Linked DNA regions of Homo sapiens: region 1 is linked to region 2. A link means that fine-mapping ties the variant in region 2 to the expression of a gene that starts in the linked region. Tissue or cell type: whole blood. Region 2 holds a variant in brackets; the other region holds the start of a gene. All regions are shown on one strand. Distances are between the middles of the regions.

Evidence for each region. PIP is the estimated chance that this variant, and not a neighbour inherited with it, causes the effect.
Region 1: it holds the start of TRAP1, and the variant in region 2 is fine-mapped to the expression of TRAP1 in whole blood (INTERVAL, PIP 0.96).

The regions. Positions count from the first base shown.
Region 1 is chr16:3,715,733-3,718,643 of GRCh38, forward strand. It overlaps TRAP1 (TNF receptor associated protein 1), which reads right to left and starts at 1,792. Exons shown (of 18, transcript NM_016292.3): 1 at 1,689-1,792. The coding sequence starts at 1,776. RefSeq lists silencers at 1,393-1,512, 1,533-2,142.
Region 2 is chr16:3,666,054-3,668,964 of GRCh38, forward strand. It overlaps TRAP1 (TNF receptor associated protein 1), which reads right to left. Exons shown (of 18, transcript NM_016292.3): 12 at 1-65. Among named protein-coding and RNA genes, the nearest start is that of DNASE1, 13 kb to the left of the region's middle. The variant C/A (reference allele first, on the strand shown) is at 1,702.

The DNA of each region.
Region 1 (2,911 bases), 50 kb after region 2:
GGTCAGGCACTGGAGACCAGCCTGGCCAACATAGTGAAACCCCACCTCATAAAGACAAAAAAATAAATAAATAATTGATCAGACACTGGTGCTAGAAGAGAGCAACAGCATCACTTTCTGAGGGAAAATTATTATTATTTTTGTTGTTGAGATGAAGTCTCACTCTGTCGCCCAGGCTGGAGTGCAGTGGTGCAATCTCAGCTCACTGCAATCTCTGCCTCCTGGGTTCAAGCGATTCTCCTGCCTCAGCCTCCCAAGAAGCTGGGATTACAGGCGCGCGCCACCACACCCAGCTAATTTTTGTATTTTTAGTAGAGACAGGGTTTCACCATGTTGGCCAGGCTGGTCTTGAACTCCTGATCTGCCCACCTCAGGCTCCCAAAGTGCTAGGATTACAGGCGTGAGCCACCGCGCCCGGCCACAAGGTATCTTTTATAGACCACTGGTTTTGAAAAGACATAAGATTCAGCGTTGAAGAAAATACCTTTGGAATAGGCAGTCTTGATGCCTGCTAAAGGGGATATAAATTGATAAGGCCTTTTTGGACAATTTGGCAGTATCTGCTAACATTTCAAAAATGCATAGGCTCTGAAATATCAATTCTAAAATTCTAATTATGTAAGGCTAAAGAAATACCGCACGTGAACAAATATTTAAGTACTCACCCATTCTATGCAGCATTGTAATAAAAAGTAAAACCTGAAATAACCTTTATTGCGTCCACTAATAGGACAATGTTTAAACAAATGACACGTCCATCATACAGAATACTGTGTGGTCACTGGAAGGCACATGGACCTGTATACACTGACATGAAAAGATGTGGAAAGAATGCTGGGAGCGTTAAAATTTTCTGAAGTACAACGTAGCACAATGCATACATGGTTTAGGCTTTTTAGAATAAAAAATACTTATACGCAGACATTTATATTTACACGTATAACACTGTGTACAGCCCCGAAGCAATGCCGAAACTTTCACTGTTGTTACCTCCGAGTGGGGACTGGGAAAGCAGAGGTTAGGGTCGTTCTCTCTGTTTTACAAACATTTATTGGCGCATCCATCAATTCCAGGCCCCGAGGACACAGCTGCGTCAACGACATCGAGTCCACCTGCTCTGGGGACCCGGATGACTGCTATAGGTTTTGTTCACTGTGGCGTCCCCAGAACCTGCACGGCGCCGGGCACTGAGCGGGCGCTCACATGTGCGTCCAATGAACGAATTAACAAATGAACCCTCAGTGCGCTACTGGGAGGCGGGGAGGGGTAAAGCACGATCCATGGAACTAGCACGATCACCCCGAGTGAGTCCATTCCCCGCAACATGCACCCGCAAAGACTCCGCGCTCCGCAGCGGCTCCACCTGCACGTGCGCTACCTGACTGGACCGAAGCTCCAGGAGGGACGACCCCGCAGCCGCTCCGCCCGACCCCGCGACCCCCCAAGACCCAGCCTCCTTCAGGGCTCCCATGGGCGGGTGGCGAGGGGAGTCCAGCCGAGGAAAAGGCAGCCAAGCTGGAGCTGGCGAGGAGCGGAGCGAAAGTAAACGCGTCTGCCGCGCTTGGCCTCGCCGGACCTCCCACGCCTGTGAAGCAGGTGCCGGCGCCTCGCTCCCCGGAGCACAGGGACGTCCCTGCCGTCTCCGTGGCCCGGCCCGCCCGCTGCCCGTCCAGCCAGGACGCCCTCACCTCCCGGCACGGCCGCCAGCGCCGGCGCCCGCAGCAAAGGCCGCAGGCGGCGGCCCCACAGCAGCAGCGCCCGCAGCTCGCGCGCCATGTCGTACTCCCAGAGCGCCGCGCGCAGCCACGCGGGACCGTACACGATGGGAAGGGGCGGGACGGGGCTGCGCGGGGCGGGGCTTCCTCGGGCGCGGGGCGGTGACGTCACGGCGGGCGCCGGGCTGTCCGGGCAGCTGCCTGCTCGGGCGCGTGGCGGGGTACTACCCGTCTCGTGGACGGTCGGGCCTGGGGGTGGGACCTCCGTGACCTTGGATCGCGTTGTCAAGGGCGACGGGCCTTGCGCGCGGAGGTGGGGGAGGTGGCCCCGCCGCCCCCGGCCCACGCTGGCCGGCTGCGCCTAGCTGTGCGCATTCCTGGAATGGGGCGGATGTCAGTATCCACGCGAGGGTGTGGAGGCGACGCTGGGGAAGAAGCAGTTCCCGTGTCTGCGACCTTTGTGAATCCCGGCCATCCGTCTAGGCCGCTGCAAGTCTCTTGCAAACCAAGACTGGACAAAAAGCTAAAGCGAATGAGGAAGGGGATTCCAGGCTTGACTGGCTACTACTCCAAAACCTGAACCCAGTGACCAATACCACCAGGAAAACTGCGGTTATTCGTTTATTCCACTTCTCTTGTCCTTGTCGAGAAGAGTCAAACTCTAAAGTATTTAGAAGGTTATTCTGAGCCAAATATGAGTGTGCATGGAGGGAGGCACAGTCTCAAAAGGTCCTGAGAACTTGGCCCAAGGTGCTTGGGTTACAGCTTGCTTGGTTTTATACATTTTAGAGAGACATAAGACATCAGTCAATGCATGTAAGACATAGGTTGGTTCCGTGTGGAAAGGCAGGACAACTCAAAGGGTGAAATACTTAGAGGTCATAGGTGGATTCAGATACTTTCTGATTGGCAATTGGTTAAAAGAGTTGAGTTCTGGTTGGGCGCGGTGGCTCACGCCTGTAATCCTAGCACTTTGGGAGGCTGAGGTGGGCGGACTGCCTGCGGTCAGGAGTCCGAGACCAGCCTGGCCAACATGGTGAAAACCCATCATCTCTACTAAGATACAAAAAATTAGCTGGGCAAGGTGGCACGTGCCTGTAGTCCCAGCTCCTGGGGAGGCTGAGGCGGAAGAATAGCGTGAACCCGGGAGGCTGCGGTTGCAGTGAGCCGAGATCGTGCCACTTGCACTGCAGCCT
Region 2 (2,911 bases):
CATCTTTTTTACTCTGGTCAATGAAGAATTTGATCAGCCTCTGCTGTAAAACGTCCCGGAGTTTCCTACAGAAAAGAAATGCATTTAATACATACAAGCAGCCTCTATGAAATACAAATGGCCAGAGGGTACGAAAAAATGTTCAGCCCCGCTAAGAATCAAAGAAGTGAAAACAACAAGGTACCGTTATTGGCCAAACTGAAAAAGACTGAGCAGAAAGACAGAAACCCTGGGCAGTGGCCGGACAGGAGGCAGCAGGGTGGAGGGCAGACACCCCCTGGAGGCAGTAGGAGAACCGATGCCCCCAGAGACAAGATACCCACGCCCGGAAAACCCTTCCAACCTTTGAGCCAGTTGTTCCAATTATAGGAACTGCACCTTAGGAAACATGTGAGCACACCAAGATTTATGTACCAGGATTTTCACTGTGGCACATAAAATATAACAATTATGAACAACCTCATGTTCAAGAATATAGGCTAAAATTATGTAATGCTAAATGGCCATAAAAAAAAAAAACTGCATCTTTTAATAATCCTCAATGACATGAGAAAGTTAGCTGTGTTGAAAGAAAACCCAGAAAAATCCCAATGTGGGTAAATTACAGTACGTCTATAGATACAGGCAAAGAATGCACATTCTACATGTACATAACAATTTTCCATCATTAGGAGCAGCACTGTATATACTATATATGTACACTGTAATTTGGGATTTATACTGAATATATGTATACTCTAATTTTTCAAAATTGGGATTTTAGGGATCAGGATATTTACTGCAGCATTACATAATGGCCTAAAATTAGGAACAACTTTATCACTGGGACTAGGGATATTTTTATTTTCTTCTTAATATTTAGTCTTTCCTTTAAGCAGGTAAATTACAATGTATTTCAATAATCCAGAGCATGGGAACAACACTCTCTCGAGTTCATTTAGAGCCTTTCCTCCCACACTCCATCCCCAGTGACTCAGTCCTTCAGCCACAGGGCAGAATGGGACAGGACATGCCTTCGTGCCTGGGAGCGGGGGGACAGTAGCCCAGGATGCGGTGCAGAGCCCAGGGAAGGTGTCTATGCAGGGCCATGGTTGGGAAGAGCCTGGTATGGGTGTCAGAGCCCAAGAACCCCAGAGAAGGGTGTCCAGGCTGGGGGCGTGACCAGCCCACCGTGAAGAGTCAGAGCCCAAGTAGGTGACAGGGACACCCGCAGAAGAGGGCAGTGGCAATGGTAGATTGGTTACATGGAGGGGGATTGGTCAAATGGGTAACCGTGCTAAGAATAATCAACGGGGCATGGTGGCTCCTGCCTGTAATCGCACCACTTTGGGAGGCTGAGGCGGGCGGATCACCAGAGGTCAGGAGTTTGAGACCAGCCTGGTCAACATGGTAAGCCCCCGTCTCTACTAAAAATACAAAAAATTACCAGGGCATGGTGGTGGGTGACTGTAGTCCCAGCTACTTGAAAGGCTGAGGCAGGAGAATCGCTTGAATCCGGGAGGCAGAGGTTTCGGTGAGCCAATACCTCGCCACTGCACTCCAGCCTGAGCAACAGAGTAAGACTCCATCTCAAAAATAAATAAATAAATAAATAAATAAAAATAAAAAAATTTTATTAATGATAGCAAGATTATAAACTCTTGAATAAAACAGGAAATCAGCCCATATAAATAAATTATAAATAGTATAAATATAACACAT[C/A]AATTTTTTTTTTTTTTTCCATCCGACGAATCTTGCTCTTGTCCCCCAGGCTGGAGTGCAGTGGCGTGATCTCGGCTCACTGCAACCTCTGCCTCCCGGGTTCAAGCAATTCTCCTGCCTCAGCCTCCCAAGTAGCTGGGATTACAGGCACCTGCCACCATACCCGGCTGATTTTTTTTTTTTTTTTTTTTTTGAGATGAGTCTCGCTCTGTCGCCCAGGCTGGAGTGCAGTGGCGTGATTTTGGCGCACTGCAATCTCCACCTCCCAGGTTCAAGCAATTCTCTGCCTCAGCCTCCCGAGTGGCTGGGATTACACCTGCCTGCCACCACGACTGGCTAAAATTTTGTGTTTTTAGTAGAGATGGGGTTTCACCATCTTGGCAGGCTGGTAACTCCTGACCTCGTGATCCACCCGCCTCGGCCTCCCAAAGTGCTGGGATTACAGGAGTGAGCCATTGCGCCCAGCCTAATTTTTCTATTTTTTAAGTAGAGACGGGGTTTTACCATGTTGGCTAGGCTGGTCTCGAACTCCTGACCTCAGGTGATCTGCCTGCCTCGGCCTCCCAAAGTGCTGGGATTACAGGCGTGAGCCACCGCGCCCGGCCAACACATAAATATTTTAAGTAAATAAATGAATGTATTGAGAGTTTCATGAAGAATGTGACATTTACATAGCTTCAAAATACCTATAACATCTGTTAATTACAAAGGGAAGGACATCCTTGTTTGTTGGAAATGCACCCCAAAGGCATCGAGAAGGCAACTTCCTCTCACAGGATTCGAGGAAAAACATGTTCTTGGTACCATGCTTCCAACTTTTAAGCCTGTGATTCTTTCAAAAGCTCTAATTTCGGCTGACTCTTTTCTGATCGAGATGAGTTCTCAGACTGACAACGCAACCTTTGACAACCACAAGCTGGGATGAGGACCCCTGCTCTGCAGCTTCGGGCACTACCAGTGGGCCAGCATGCCTGCCACAGCCAGGAATGCAGCTCCCTTACTGAGCAGGACCACCCCTCTGTGACTCAGTTTCCACAACTATGAGTGAGGACTCACGGCTCCCCTCACAGGATGAAACACGTGTTTATGCAGGCTCAGCACAGTTCTCAGTGGAGAAGAAATACTCAGGAAACACATTCAGGATGGGGAGAGGAACGCAGCCGCCTCGGCCCGCAGGGACGCCAGGAGCTCCCTCTCCACAGGGCCTGGC